Linked DNA regions of Homo sapiens: region 2 is linked to region 1. Evidence: fine-mapped expression QTL. A gene starts in region 1. The other region holds a variant in brackets. All regions are shown on one strand. Distances are between the middles of the regions.

Evidence for each region. PIP is the estimated chance that this variant, and not a neighbour inherited with it, causes the effect.
Region 2: its variant is fine-mapped to the expression of NOD2 in cerebellum (GTEx, PIP above 0.99).

Annotation. Positions count from the first base shown.
Region 1 is chr16:50,688,582-50,696,716 of GRCh38, forward strand. NOD2 (nucleotide binding oligomerization domain containing 2) reads left to right here and starts at 5,025. Exons shown (of 12, transcript NM_001370466.1): 1 at 5,025-5,081. RefSeq lists a silencer at 4,745-5,254 and enhancers at 5,625-5,674, 5,915-5,994, 7,899-7,948.
Region 2 is chr16:51,020,711-51,028,845 of GRCh38, forward strand. LINC02127 (long intergenic non-protein coding RNA 2127) reads left to right here. Exons shown (of 3, transcript NR_110913.1): 2 at 1,510-1,566. LOC107984903 (a long non-coding RNA gene) reads right to left here. Exons shown (of 3, transcript XR_001752172.2): 3 at 3,786-7,809. Among named protein-coding and RNA genes, the nearest start is that of LINC02127, 7.0 kb to the left of the region's middle. RefSeq lists an enhancer at 1,690-2,971. The variant T/C (reference allele first, on the strand shown) is at 4,718.

The DNA of each region.
Region 1 (8,135 bases):
TACAGGTTAACACAGAAGAATTTTAAAAGTCCAGTTAAAATCCGATCCTAACTTGTCTTTTAGATGTTTCAATGCATATATTCACACATATCTATTACAGAATTTTTGTATAAAGTATGAGGTAGTAGTCCAAATTCATTTCTTTTGCACGTGGATATCTAGTTTTCCCAGCACCATGTGTTAAAGAGATCATTTTTCCCCTTTGAATTATCTTGGCATCCTTGTTAAAAAACAACCTACTCTTTAAATTTAGCCTTATATTCTTTCTACACAAAGCATTTGGCAGCCCAACTGTTTTTCATTGAGATATAATTCACATACCATAAAACTCACCCTTTTAAGGTGTGTAATTCACTGGTTTTTAGTCCATTCACAAGGTTGTGTAACCATCACCATGATCTAATTCCGGAATATTTTCATCATGCAAAAACAAAACAAAACAAAACAAAACAAAAACCAAACCTCATGCCCACTAGCAGTCACTCCTCATTCCTCCCTCCTCTCAGTTCCTGGCAACCAACAAATCTACTTTCTGTCTTCATGGGTTTGCCTATTCCGGACATTGCATGTAAACGGACTTACACAATAGATGTCATTTTGTGACTGGCTTCTTTCACTTAGCATAATGTTTTCAAGGTTCATTTATGTTGTAGCATTTATCAGTACTTTGTTTTTTTCACAGCTGAATAATATTCCATTGCACAGATAGATCACATTTTCTTTATCCATTCATCAGCTGAGGGACATTTAGTTTGCTTCCACTTTTTCCTCTTATGAATAATGTTGCTATGAACATTTGTGTACAAGCATTTGTGTGCATATATGCTTCAATTCTGTTGAGTATACCTAGGAGTAGAATTGCTGGATCATATGGTAACACCATGTTTAACTTTATGAAGAACCCACAAACTATTTTCCACAGTGGCTTCACCACTTTACGCTCTAACCACCAATGTATGAGGCTTCCAGTTTCTCCACATTATTTCCAGCACTTGTTTTCTGTCCTTTGGACTAAGGGCACCTTTGTGAGTGTAAAGTGGTATCTTATGGTGGCTTTGATTCACATTTCCCTAACAATTAATGATGTTGAGCGTCTTTTCATGTGCTTGTTGGCTACTTACATACGTTCTCTGAACATTTTCAAATCCTTTGCTCATTTAAAAAGTTGTTTGTTATTGAGTTTCAGGAGTCCTTTATATATTCTGGATATGAGTCGTGACTATTTTCTCCCATTCCGTTGGTTGTCTTTTTACTTTCTTGATCATGTCTTTCAAAGCACAAAAGCTTGGAATTTTGATAAAGTCCAACTTATCTATTTTTTTCTTTGGTTGTTTGTGCTTTAGGTGTCAAATCTGAGAAATCATTGCTTCATCCAAGGTCACAAAGATTTTCACCTATGTTTTCTTCTAAGATTTTTATATTTTAAATCTTGCATTTGGGACTTTGATCCATTTTGGGTTAATTTTTGTATAAGGCCTGAAGGAGGAATCCAAATTCAGTTCTTTTGCATGTGGACATCTAGTTTTCCCAGCACCATTTGTTAAAAAGACCACTTTTTTCCCCCTGAATCATCTTGGCATCCTCGTTCAAAAAAGAGTCTACTTTATAAATTTAGCCTTATATATTCTAGGCAGCTTTCTATCTGATAAACATACTTATAGCATCTTTAAAAAATAAATATCTATTGAAATATGACAAGCATAAAGGAAAATATAAATATCATGTGTTTAACTTGGTCAGTTTCACAATGTATTTGCATCAATGCAACCACTATTCAGAGTAAAAATAGGAGATTACTGGCACCCCAGAAGTCCCCTTCACTCCTCCCCTAGTCACTACCTCCAACTTTCTCCCCAGTGGTAGCCTCTATCTTGGCTCCTACCTGTAATGCAGTTTTGCCTGCTTTTGAACTTTATAGAAAGGATACCATTCCGTATGCACGCTCTTGCACTCAGCCTGTTTCACCCAACATTATGTCTGTGAGGCTGCAGTTCTCGTGGGGGTACAGTGATTCATTTATTTTCATTGGTTATTAGAACCACAGCATTATTTTTAGTATATTCACTCAACAAAGATTTATTGCATGCCAGGTCCTGTTCTAGGCCTTGGGAGAAGGCAAGGGACAAAGCAAAAATTCCCTGTTCCCTTGGAGCTCATGCTGTCTTGGGTGAGAGACCAACAACAAAGACAATAAATAAGTAGAATACATAATGTGTTGTGTGCAGATAAGCGCTATGGAGAAAAATACAAAATAAAGCAGGAGAGAAGGGATTGGAGGGTGTTGCAGCTGTACACCGAATAGTTAGGGAAGGCCTTGCCGAGAAAGTCATATGGAAGCAAAGACCCAAAGGAGAGGAAGGAGGGAGCCAGGTAGATTTCTAAAGAAAGAGCATTCCAGGCACAGCAAAGGCAAAGGCCTGAGTGTAACTGCAGGTTTGGCATATTTGAGGAACAGCCAGGAGGCCAGTGTAGCTGGAGCAGAGTGAGTAAGATGAGAGTGTAAGAGGTGGGCAGAGAGGGTGCCAGAGGCCAAACAGCAATTGTAAGGACCTTGGCTTTTACTTTGGGATGGGAGCCATCAACAGAAGAGTTTCAGCAGAGGAGTGATAGAATTTGACTTAAAACAGCAACAACGACAACAACAGCAAAACCAACAGACTCACTCTGGCTGCTGGATTGAAGAAGGGCTGTAGATGGAGGCGTGGAGAATGGCCAGGAACTCCTGCTATCACCCAGGTGAGAGATGATGGAGATGTGGACCCAGGTGGTAATGGTGCATATGGCAAAAATGGGCTGCAGCTTGGAAATATTTGAAGGCCAAGCTGAAAAATTTGCTCCCAGATTGGATAGTGGGGCTGAGAGAAGATGGGTCGGGTTAAGTGTTCTAGGTTCAGATGTTCTGTCAGTTTTCTTAATTAATTTTCTGTTACTGGGCATTAGGGAGGTTTCTAGCTTCTCACTGCTGTAGGCAAGATGGTGGTGAACATCCTTGTAGATGGTTCTGTGCGCTGCCCAGAATGAATTTTCTAGGGTAGATTCAGTCCTTCTAATGCAGCATTTTCCAACCTTGGCTGACTGTGCACCACCTGCACAGGTATTTACTTGAAAGCGGTATGGGGTAGTGGTTAGAGCATTCATCTGTGCCAGAGGCCTGGGGCAAATCCCCATCTCTGGTGCCAGAGGAAAGGGGGCATCTCGAGGCTGGGGAGGCCCCTGGCAGGAGTGAGAAGTCCTGAGGAGCCCGGGCTTCAGGTCTCAGAGGGGGCCACTGTTTTTTGAGTACCTTCCTCTCTGTGGGACTCAGTTTCCCCATCTTCACCATGCCAGTGAGTGGGTGGGTGTAAGTGAGCGAGTCTGCCTGGAGGATCCTACTGCTGCTCTCTGCACCTCTTAGGGGAATCTCCTGCCTCCTCCTTCTCCCTTGGTGGGCGTGAGATCAAAGTTCAAATGTGTACCTCAGTTTCTGCATCTATAAGTTAGAGGCAATAATAGTCAATACCCTAGAGGTGGAAGTAACTGAGTTACTGTCTGTAAAGACTAGCACATGGTAAACACTTTCTAGATGCCAGTTATTTTCGTTATTTTTAAAAATTGACTTCACATTTTTTAAAACAACCAAATATGAGTTTCAAAAGGAACATTTACATTAACATGTTAAATGGAAAACCGGTGTCATTTGCTCCGGAGAACAGAAGAATGTAAAATAAAATATATTTAATGGAAACAAAAACAATGCTATTAAAGCTAATTAGATAGTTTCAGAGCCAAGTAATCTAGGCAGTGCTAGAAAGGTACTCAAACCCTATTAGTACTAAACTGAGAAATAAACTCCATTCAACATAAACGGAAAAACTGAAAGGAAAATGAAAAAAAAGAACCTTAAATGACCAGTCCACTCTTACCTAACATGTAACCTGTCACACTCTGGAAAAGTTTTCCTAGTTTTGGCTGTGTGTGCGTGTGTGTGTGTGTGTGTGTTGGGAAGTGAGGCGTGTGTTGGGAAGCGATGTGTGTGTTGGGAAGCGATGTGTGTGTGTTGGGAAGTGGGGTGTGTGTATATTGGGAAGCATGTTTGTGTGTGTTGGGAAGCGGTGTGTGTGTTGGGAAGTGGTGTGTGTGGGGTGTGGTGTGTGTGTGTTGGGAAGTGGTGTGTGTGTGGGGTGTGTGTATGTGCACGTGTGTGTTGGGAAGCAGTGTGTGTGGGGTGTGTGTGTGTTGGGAAAGCAGGGAGTGTAGTGTGTGTTTGTGTTGGAAAGTGGTGTGTGTGTGGGGTGTGTGTGTGTGTGCACGTGTGTGTTGGGAAGCGGTGTGTGTGGGGTGTATGTGTTGGGAAAGCAGGGTGTGTGTGTGTTGGGAAGTGGTGTGTGTGTGAGTGTTGGGAAGCAGGGTGTGTGTGTTGGAAGTAGGGGGTGTATGTGTATCGGGAAGCATGTTTGTGGTGGGGGGAAGCAGGGCGTGTGTGTGTGTGTATGTGAGTGTTGGGAAGCAAGGTATGTGTGTTGGGGGAAGCGAGGGCTGTGTGTGTATTGGGAAGCATGTTTGTGTGTGGGGGGAAGCGAGGGCTGTGTGTGTGTATTGGGAAACATGTTTGCGTGTGGGGGGGAAGCAGGGCGTGTGTGTGTGTTGCGAAGCGGTGTGTGTGTGGTGTGTGTGTGTGCGCGTGTGTGCTGGGAAGCGGTGTGTGTGGTGTGTGGTGTGTGTGTGTGTGTATGTGTATGTGTTGGGAAGCGGGTTGTTCCGAGGACTCCCCGATTCCCTCCTGGTTGAAACGTGGCCCAGAAAGAGAGGCACACTGGCTAGGGCACACAGCCAGGGCCGTCCAGCCCCGCAGGAAGCCCCGGTCCTGCCCTGTCCCAGGTAAGCCTGGCCAGCCCTGGAGCCGGCGCTGCGGGGCTGCGGGGCTGCGGGGCTGCGGGGCCACGGGACAGGAGCGGGTGCTGCGGTCCCGGCAGAGCAGGGGCGGGGTCCGGGCGGGGGCGGAGCCGAGCGCCCGCGCACCCGGAGCCGCAGCCCGAGCCGGAGCCGGAGCCGGGAGTCGTGGCCCGGAGTGGGCCTTGGAGTCGGCGCGCAGGCGGCTCGCGGTGAGTGCTGTGCCCAGCGCCTGGGGGTGGGCTGGGGGGAGACTGTGGGCGCCGAGGGTCCCACCCCCGGGACTTGAACACTTGGCTTCTGAGCCGTCCTGGCCGCAGGGCTTGGGCAAGGGTTGCCTCGGTTTCTCCTGGGGGAGTCCCAGAATGTAGATGGGAAGTGAGACGGAAAGGGGGCATCTCGAGGTTGGGGAGGCCCCTGGGCCACTCTTTTGATTTCCTTCCTCTCTGTGGGACTCAGTTTCCCCAGCTTCACCATGCCAGTGAGTGGGTGGGTATAAGTGAGAGAGTCTGCCTGGAGGATCCTGCTGCTGCTCTCTGTACCTCTTATGGGAATCTCCTGCCTCCTCCTTCTCCCTTGTTGGGTGTGAGATCTAAGTTCAAATCCATCCCTTCCCAGACAGCCCACACCAGGACCTGCGAGGCCACATCCCCCAGCTGTTTGCTCTCCTATGCTTCTCAGGTTGATGGAGCAGCCATCTGGTCCTGCTTTCATTCCAACAAACTGAAAAGCCCTCCACCCCAATCCCCCTGGGGAGGACCTCCTGAAGCTGCATGAGGGCTGGGGGCTGGACCCCTGCTTCTGAGTTTGCTCTTTCTGAGCCTCTCCTGCCATGGCCTTGGTTTCCCCATGGGCTGTGACCTAGCCTCCTCCAGGGTCCTTGTTCTACAGAGGGGAAACACCTGCCCTGTCACCCTCCCCTGACCCCTTAGTGAAAAAGACCAGAGTGACATCCCCACCACCTGTACTTGCCTGTCCCGATCACTCAGCCATGGGGCTGCTGGGGCCCCTGAGTTTGTTGGCTGCTCAAGGCCCCTTTGCCTCGCTGCACCCTGGGATCTGAGGCTGGAAGCATCCTCATCCAGCCCACCTCCCTCCTACCCAGTGCAGAGCCCCTCTGTGACACATGCCCAGTGGTGGGGAGCTTATTACTGATGAGGTGGCTTTTTAGTGCCTTGCAGCTCTTGTTTCCTTTAGCTAAAATCTGTGGCTTACAGATTCTACACCTTGGTTCCATGTCTGTCTCCCGGAGCCATGCAGAGCAAGTCAGTTCTTTCATTCTTTCCAGCAGTCATCATTCATGCACTGGATGAGACACGAGACAGAGCAGTAGGAAAATCAGACAAAACCCCCTGCCCTCATGGAGTGCACACTCTAGAAAGGAATGGACAGCAATGAAATAAGTAAATACATGGCGTAGCAGGTGGCGGGAAGTACTACGAGTAAAACAAAGCTGGGAAGCAGGATGGGGTGCTGGGGCTGGGTATTGCATTGTATATAGCACAACCAGGGAAGGCTTCCCCAAGACCACGATAGCTGGGCAAAGTCATAAGGAATTGAGGGGTGAGCCACATGAGTATCTGGGGGGCTGGGAGGCTTTGGTTTTCACTCTGAGCATGATGGGAGCACGGGTTTGGAACAGAGGAGTCACCTGCTTTGACTTGGGGTCTGGCAGGCCCATCTAGCTGTGGGGTGGAGAATGGATCATGGGGGGGGTGGGGTAAGGGCAGAAGGAGAGCCCGTTGAGCGGATCATTGCTGTCATTCTCGGGAGAGACCATGGTGTCTTGCCCATGGCCCAGAGGTGGTTAAAAAAAAGAAAACCAGACATTCAGATTTGGGATATATTTCAAAGGCCGTGTCGATAGGGTTTGGGGTGCAAGAGAAAGGTAGAGTCAAAGATGATTCTGAGTGTTTGGCTCGAGCTTCTGGAGGTTTGAAGCTGCCATGAACTGAAATGGGAGTTGCTTAGCGGAGAGATCAAGAGTTTGGTTTTGTGCTTGTGGAGTTTGAGCTGCCCATTAGGCATCAATGATGAGTAAGCAGTTGGGAAAAGTTAAGGGCGGAGGTTGGAGTTGAAAATAAAACTTTGGGCATCATCACCATATAACTGGTATTTAAAGCCACAAGAGCAGGTGGGCTCATCTAGGGATGGAGTGATATGGAGAAGAGAAGGGGTCTAACCATTGAGTGCTGGGGCCCCCAGTGTTAGGAACCAGCCAAGAAGACAGAAAGAGTGAAAATCAGAGAGTTGGGGTGTCCTGGAGGAAATGAAGAAAATGCCCCAAAGAGGAAGGAGGGAACAAATATGACCAATGCCCCTGGCAGAGCAAGCAGGCTGAGGGCTGAGGATTGAGCAATGGGAGGTCACTGGTGACAGTTTCACTGGAGCTGGATGGGGAACTAGAGGGAATGGGAGGGGATGGGAGGACTTGGGGACAGCAGTACAGGCAACAGACAAGGGGGCCTGCTGTAAAGGGAGCAGATAAATGGGATTGGAGCCAAATGAAGAAGGGGAGTGTCAAGAGAGTGCTTTACTTTTACAATGGAGAATTAGAGTGCATTGTGCACTGGTGGGGGGATTTGATCTCTTAGGGAGAGAACAGTGTTAGGGAGGGAGAATGCAGGATAGCTGGGGGAGGGTGGGGGGCTTGGCCCCAGCAGAGACTCAGGACACTTGGGAAGTTGAGCTTCCCTGGGCTTCCCCTCCTCTCCTGTCTGCAAGGGGTCAGTGGGCTGAGATTTCAGCACTTAAGCAAAGCATTTGCTCTTGGCCCCAGAGAAACCGGGCTGGCTGTGGTCTCAGGAAGGAAGGAGGTGTCCAGGCTCAGGCCTGGGCCTGGGTTTCAGGGAGGGCCCACGTGGGTCGCCCCTTGACCCTCTCTTTCAGCAAGGAAGTGATCCTTTCTCTACATGGGCCTCACCTTGGGGAGGACAATGGTGTCTTTGAAGTTGTAGTAACTGAAGTAGAGATCAAAAGGCAATGCAGATAGACTGACAGATTTCGCCTGAAGAGGGGAAGCCCGACCAGGTAATAAAGGAGTAAGAGGAAGGATGTTAAGGACAATTTTAGGAAACAGATAATGAGTGAATATTTTTTCTCTCTCTTTCCCAATTTAAACTGAAGCAGGAGAAACTGAAGCTAGACATAATGATTAACTTCCCAAGCTGGTGAGCTTCCTGAGCTGGTTAGTGAGAACAGCACTAAGGCCAGGTTCTCCTCCCCAGATGTTTAAGATGAGACAGGACAATGCCTGCTCAGAGACA
Region 2 (8,135 bases), 330 kb after region 1:
GTGAGCCAAGATCCGGCCACTGCCCTCCAGTCTGGGTGACAAGAGTGAGACTCCATCTTAAAAAAATAAAATAAAATTAGAGACAGACACAAGGGAATTTGTTCATTCATTCATTCGTTTACTTCACTAATATTTATTGTGTTTCTTTCCATGCCAGGAACCACTGTGTTAGGTATAATTATGGTGGTTGAGCAATAAGAGCTTGTATTTGTGGAGCACGTATTATGTGTTAAGTATGATCTCATTTAATTCCATCAGATAGGAACCAATCCTATTATTATTATTATTATTCTACAGAGAAGGAAAATATAGATTAGTGAAGCTAAATGGCTGCCCAAAGTCAGTGTAGCTAATAAGCAGCAGATCTTGAGTCTGACACTAAAGCCCCTAAGTTTGTATAAAGGGCTACATTGCCACTTAAAGCAAGTAAAGTCCTTATTCTCATGGAGTTTGCATTCTAGTGGGGGAGACAGTCAATTGAAAATAGAGGCATAAGTATACACATAAATAAGCAAGATCATTTCAAATAGCAGTAAGAGCTCAAGAAAATATAAAATGGAGTGATGCGCAAGGCAGAGACAAGGTGGAGGTGCCGGGAAGATCCCCCACCCCAGTTGAACACTTGTAATGGCTGAACCAACTCTCTTTGAGCCTAGTTGTTTCATCTGAAGGCAGGAACCTGGACAAGAGGTTCCTTCTGTAGCTCATTTCATTCCACAGTGGCATGGGCAGCATGGGCTGCCATTTACAACTCGTATTCTTCTTCTGTGTTCTGACATATGGAGTTTTTCCAACCCAGACAGAGCTAGGCCACTAGATATGAGCAGACTCAGATGCTACCTAAATAAAAAGTTACCTTTGTCCTTAAGCAAATAATCCTACACAGGACACTCAGATATGGCAGTAAACAAATGTCTAAGTGTTTCATGGAAAATACTAAAACACTCAACTGGTGGGCAGTGTTACCTTCCAAGTGACATTTGGCAATATCTAGAGGCTTCTGGGGTTGTCACAAACTGGGGGAAGAATGCTACTGACATCTAATGGGTAGAGGCCAGGGAAACTGCTGAACATCATACCATTCACAGGGCAGCCCCCTACAATAAATAATTATCTAGCCCAAAATTTCACTACTGGGAAATCTCATGCTACAGTGAGGTAGAGAGATAATAGATAGATAGACAGATAGGTGATAGATAGACTGCCATCCTCATTTTCTGGTAACTTTCTCTACCTCCAAAATCTGCCCCAAATTGATGGAGACAAGAGCTTTCAACAATTTTTTACTAAAACTTTCCATCAAAAGTCCAACCCAAAAAGCAGGGTCAGGAAGCCTCCCACATTTAAAACGATCTCACACAGCCATCAGAGAAAGAGAAGGACTCCCTCAAAGATGTTGAGAGAGAGAGACAATGTCTAAATCTTTACTTGTGTAAAATTGATAATACAAAACATATCTCTATTAGGTTCTTTCTTAATTGAAACAATGCTTTCTTTCATCCCTGCCAGGAAGAAGAAAAATCATGTTTCCAGCTTGGGCTGCTGTTTCATCTGTTGGACTTGCTTGTGAGCTAAGCCAAATTTCATTAAAAATTATTGGTCTCATAACTTTTTTTGTTTTTCCCTTTAAAGAGTCCCATATGGAACCAATATTGTGATAGGATTGTAGCTGCATAAAGTCATTGGGCATTTTGACCCACTCTCTGCTTCTTGGTAGATTCTAAGTACAGATCTAATTATTTTTTCCTTCAAGTATTAAGCGAATATCTCTGCAAACAAATCCAAATTTAGAAAGCTAGATTGAAGAAATGGAGAAGCAAATCTAGTCAACTCATAGAAATCTTTCTTCTCCTCTCTTGCTCTGTCTCCAAGAGAACCTCTACACCTTCTTTTAAGGTGCCAGCCATCTTAAGCTCTTGTCTGATTAAGAAATTCTCTGGTAGAACCAGAGCATCTGCAAAAGCATAAAATATGATCACAGCCTTTGCACAAGTATTTTAACAACCCAACCTTATGATAGGTTATATTTCATTGACTTGGAAGAAACACTGCATTATCTGGGAAAACAGCACAGATGTTGCCTAATAAACGTTTTGGTTTATGCATTGTATTAACCTCATGAAACATTTATGCAAATCTCACATTAACAAAAGGTAAAAGAACCATTCTATGTTATGAAGCATACAACAGGATGATCTTTGTCATGTTTTTGTTTCTGTTGTTGTTGTTTCACCTTGGTATTTTATGGGTCTGTTTGTAACTCTTGGAGTTTCTATTTAGGAGGACACAAGAGCATTGCAGATTTTCATCTCTTCTGTTTTCAGTTCTGTTATCATCCCTTCCAGCTGACTTCACATTTTATGATGCTAATGGGGGGTGTGTGGTTTTGAGTTTCTCTCCTGTCAGCTGGTCAGTGGGTCTGAGGGATATATTTAATAGAATCTGACAGCTGATGGAACTGGCCTCATTGAAAGAGGATTTGATATGTGGAGTGAATGTGGCGACCCTGAAATCGCCATAATAACGGCCATTATTATTCTGCCTCTCGCAGCCAATATAACTCTCCCTCTTGTACACACCAGTACATGTGTATAAAAGACATGACTTATGGATGGTTTCTTCCGTACACTGATCTGAGGGCCATTTAGATAGCATGTCAAAACAGATTAACTGTCTTATCCTGCCACAAAATTAAGGGGGGGAAAGAGAACTTTACACAACTCTGCCCAACATATGCACTCTGTGCCCATAAACAAAGCCAGCACAGAAGGGCCACAGATTGTCTCTGGGTGGGGGTTAAGAGAATCAGGCACCCAGAAAAGCTGCAGGCTCACCCACTTAAGGTGCCCGCTCCAGTGAGGACCCAAGGGCACTGCCTGAGATATGGTGAGGGCAGCTGGAGCCACAGGTAGGAACCTACCTCCTGAAAGGCTGGTGCTATGCTTTACCTGTGTGCATGTGCCTGGGATGTTGGGGTGGGTGTTGGCCCACCTCGGCCCTGCTGAACTGGACTCGCTGTTGAAATCAACATCTCAACCTGCATCCTGGCAACCTGAAACAGCCACATTCTCTGCCAAACCTGCCTGCCTACTGGTTACTAAAGTTCGTTAACACGTATCGTGTGCTTGTTCCATGCTAAATTTTACCTGTAGAGACCCTTTTAATCTTCCCAAGAACCCTAAACTGTAGATATTATTATTATTAATTATGATTATCACCTCCATTTTACATATGAAGAAACTGAGAGAAAGGTAAACTAAGTAACTGGTCTCAAGTCAGAGCTAATAATTGATGGAGTCAGGATGGAATCTCAGGCCGTCAGAGCCCATTGCCATAACAGTGACTGTCCTCTTCTGCTTCTGTTTGTCCCCCAGCCAACAAGAAGTATGTGTGAGTGTGTGTCTGCATACGTGGGCATATGCACGTATAAAAATTCTTAGACACAAATGTTCCCCTAGAAATCATCTGGCCACCCCCTTAGTTGCAGCCAAATCCCCACTCAATCAAGAAAGTTACTGTGTTTTTTCCTCTGTAAACCGGGCACCTCCCATCCCATGGGCTGGCACAAAGACAAGGGGGAGAACCTGTGTGCACCTAGCATAGCCCCAGGCCTGGGAGGTTGGCCGGGAAGCACTCACCTCTCCTGTCCTTCATTTCCAACCTCAGAAACCCACCCCTGTTCCCTGCCTCCTGTCAACGAGCTGACCTCCCCATCTTCAGCCATGCAACACCGCTGTCTGAGGTTATCATTTCAGGCAATGATATCAGAAGCAGTTGATTCCACATTTCCGAAAATAATCCTTTTATTTATCCACTGTCATCTTCCGGCGCAAAAAACAAAGAAAAGGAAAATGGTTGCAGAGAAGCCAGCCGATGTGTCCGGGGTACCTGAGGAAAGCAGGCCAGATGCTAGGAGATATCCTTGTGGCTGTCAGTGTTTAAATTACATAGAGCTGGTACTTTTTAGGTCAGAAGCATAAAACCTACTATTGATCTTGAGCAATGCATCCAATTTTGAATGTCTGTTAAAGCCCCAGGCACTTCAATGCCACATAATCAATATTTCTTTTCATTCGTTCTTTCTTTTTTTGTTGTAGAAAGCGTATGGGTTTGTTTACCCTTCCTGCAGGCATCCAACCTGGCCTTTTATTCCTGCTCAAGTAGGACATGCAGCCTGCTGGGGACCCGTGGCTCAAATCCTCCAACTGCAGGACTGCCGGCCCTGGGACTCATGAATAATGGAAGTGCAGTAACCACTCCTTACAGCCCAGACGACTTTCCAGGAGCAGGCTGTACCCCGAAAGTAAACAAGGAACAAGGGGCAAGGAGACAGAGAGAGATGGGGAAATGTGAGATCATGTTTAACTCATTGTAGACCCTAAGATAAGACAGTACGTGCAATCTTGAAATTTAGAGTAGAAAAGGGCCTGGGAGATTATCTGGGAGAAACATTCCCTTTCAATTTGCAGATGGAAAAACTGGCCAAGGCTCCTTATGCCTGGGTTGTTGAAATGGTCCAGGGAACATGAGCTGGGCCATATGGAATATGGGTTAAGCTTTGATCTCTATTAAGAAAAGGGTTTCGGGTCGACCAGATGACCATAGCAGTCTTTCTATTCTGACTCTGAGGACAACCTAGTAAGCAGGTCAACCAGGTAGGCTGGTGTGATTCAAAGCTACAAGGCCATTGCATCCCTGACTAAAGGCCTGGTGGCTA[T/C]GTCTGTGGTGGTGGTTTTGAAGAAGTGTATTCTTCTACGGGCTGCTACATAGACTTGGCCTTGAAGGATGAAGAGCACAGAGAAGTAAAACTGGTGAGGGGTAAGGGGTGGGGACAGAGGTAAGAAGACAAAATGACAAGTGGTGCAAAGACAGAAGTGAGAAGCAGCATGGTGCATTGATGGACTTGCAAATGGTTCACACGAGCAGCAGAGCAGAGGGTGTGGAGGCAGCAAGAGAGACAGCATCACAGGAGCCTGGCCGTGCCCTGCACTGAGGAGTTTTCAACTCTTGGCTTTGAAGCCTTTTGAATCAGGCAGTGATACAATCAGTGTTGCACTGGAGAAAGTTCATGTTGGCTGGAGGGCAAAGGATGGATTGCAGGAAGCAAGACTGGGGTCAGGGAGCCAGACAGCAGATTACTCCAGAGGCCAGGCAGACCCTGATGATGGCCAAACCAGAAAGGAGCAGGTCGGGGGATGGGTTTCTCATATTCACAGGGAGGCTCTGCAGGATTGGAGGAGGGTCTGGACAGATAAAGTGATGGGAAAAATCACAGTGGCAGGCAGGGTCACTTAAAAATTTTAGCACTACATGTGAATCGTTGTGGTTTACTGTGTGACTTTTGACAAGTCACTTAACTTCTCTGAGCTTCAGTTTCCTTACCTATAATGTGAGAATAACATGGGGATTTCATGATTAAATGAGGTAATACATGAAAATGTTTTCCATAGTGCCCACCATGTAGTAAACCTTCATTGTTTAGAAGGTGACACCTGACTTCTATTATATTATTGACCATGTGGAGAGTGTCCAATGAGACATGATGTGTTTTGAAGTAGCATCACCTTTTTTTTTTTTTTTGACAGAGACTCCCTCTGTCACCCAGGCTGGAGTGTAGTAGCATGATCTTGGCTCACTGTAACCTCTGCCCCCTTGGTTCAAGTGATTCTTCTGCCTCAGCCTCCTGAGTAGCTGGGTCTACAAGATCACACCACCATGCCTGGCTAATTTTTGTATTTTTAGTAGAAGTAGCATCATTTTTAACCCAGTCTTGAAATAGATAGCTTGAGTCATAAGCTGTTTCCAGGAAGCACGCTGGAGTTACTTCTCTAGTGCGGGAAGACAACAACATAAGCACATACCTATCTATCTCCCAGATTCCCCAGAAAATGACCAACTGTATATAAAAATAAGAAAAAACTTATCCATACTGGATATTAGCAAAGGGTGGTATTTATAGGCCAGGAGGTCTGAGGAACATCTGTTAGATACACGGCAGATGGGCCAGATTGAAGAATTCATTATTTCCACAATGGGAAGGAGTGGTCTGTTTGATAGAAATTTCAAAACTGTCTTTGCAGATCCTCACCAACAGCCCTGCTGCAGTGAAAACTGGAGGTGAGAGTGGGCTAAAGCCTCTAAAACTGGTCAGTGCCATGGATAAGTGGCCATGGTGCCAGGGGCACAGTGAAGGGGACCCCCAGACCAGACCAGCAATTCCTTGGGACTAAACTCTGAAGCCAACTTCCACCAGGCCTGGGTCAGGGCACAGCCCCAGCAGACTGCTGGTGGCTGAGCTTTAGTAGACATGAATTCTCATTTTCCCAGCATCCCAGATCCTCTTACCCTAGTAATGACTCTGATTTTGAACTTGGAGTCAACCCTTCTCTTCATTCTGAGTCCACATGGTCTGGAAGGATCTCCAGGATGAGGTTCTTGACTCAGGTCTGGTCAATCCAGCACTAAATGGACCTTGACACAGTGATTGATTCAGGAATGGTCTCACCACCCAGGGTGGTCCAATCAGAAAGGCTCTCAAAAGTTTAGTGGGAGTCCACAATAAGATATGACTGCACAACACAAGCATGGCTACAGCCAAATAGAGAGATCTCAACAAGACTGGCAAGGAAGTGGAGAAACTGAACCCTTAGACACTGCTGATGTGAGTGTAAAATAGTATAGCTGCTTTGGAAAACAGCCAGTTTCTCAAAAGGTGAACTGTGTCACCCAGCAATTCCACTCTTCAATACCTACCCTAGAGAAATGAAACCAAATGTTCACATAATGCACACAAATGATCCCAGCAGCACTGTAATAAACAAAAGGTGGAAACAAACCAAGTATCTTTCAACCAGTGAATGTATAAACAAAATGTGATGAATCCATACAATGGAGTATTATTCAGCCATGAAAAGAAATAAGATTCAGGCACACGCTGCAACATAGGTGAGCCTCTCAATCATCATGCAAAGTAAAAAAAGCCTAGTGCAAAAGACCACGTATTGTATGAAATGTCCGGAACAGGCAAATCCATAGAGACAGAGAGTGGATTCATGGTTACCTAGGGCTGGGAGAAAGGAGGATGGGGAGTGACTGCTCATGGGAATGGGGTTTCTTTTTGAGGTGATGAATTTTTTTTTAAATTGATTGTGCTGATGGTTGTATAATTCCATGAATATACTAAAATCACTGAATTTTACTTTAAGTGAGTGAACTGTATGGTATGTAAATTACATCTCAATAAAGCTCTTATTAATTTAAAAAAATGTTTAGTGGAAACCAAGGGAAAGATCCAAGCTCTATGCTGTTGGAATTGAGCTGATGGGAGGAGGAGGGGTGAGGCTGGAGCTGTTGTAGCCACTTTATCACCCAGAAGTTTTAGGGGCCACTACAGTGAGCCCAAGAATCAATCTAACACAGCAGGAAGCACACGGAAGCGATAGAAACTGGATTGTCAAGGATGTTGTTTTGACTTTAAATTCAGCTCTACTTGAAACCAGAACTACTCCTCGGTTTCCCTTCCTCAGTTACCTCCCTCTAAGTTGGGCTTTGTGTTCACAATAGAAAGACCCCCAGTGCAAATACCAAACACTGAAAACACTCCTTGAGCAGGGAGTCCAAACTTCCTGCCACCACTCCCGTTCAGGCTGACCTCCTTACCCTGGCCTCTTCTAGCTTCCTCTTCTTCCTTCAGCATCTAGATCTTCGAATCAGCCAAAGAGAACTCCATCCAGTTTAATCCATTCCATTCTCCCATCGTCGTGGCCTGAATTATTCACACAGGGAACCGCACAATCTCTGACAGAACTCCTAGCAATGGGTTAGTGAAGAGAAGCAAAGAAAAGTCACAGGCGCATGAGAAGACAGAACTGTTCACAACAAGGAGGACCACAGGTGCCTCCCAACTGAATTGAGTTACTGCAAGACGCAAGAGAAAATTTTCCAAGTCTGTTAATTCAAGTTGTCAGAAGGAATCAAGAACAAACTGTGGCTTCCATTTTCAGAAAGCGATTCGAGTTTATCTGTTTACTTCCCTTGCCTCTCCAAACCTTATTATAACCAAATTAAAAAACAAAAAATGAAAAGAAAGAAAGAAAATCTCTATCAGCACTAGAAACTAAGCCATGGATAACCTA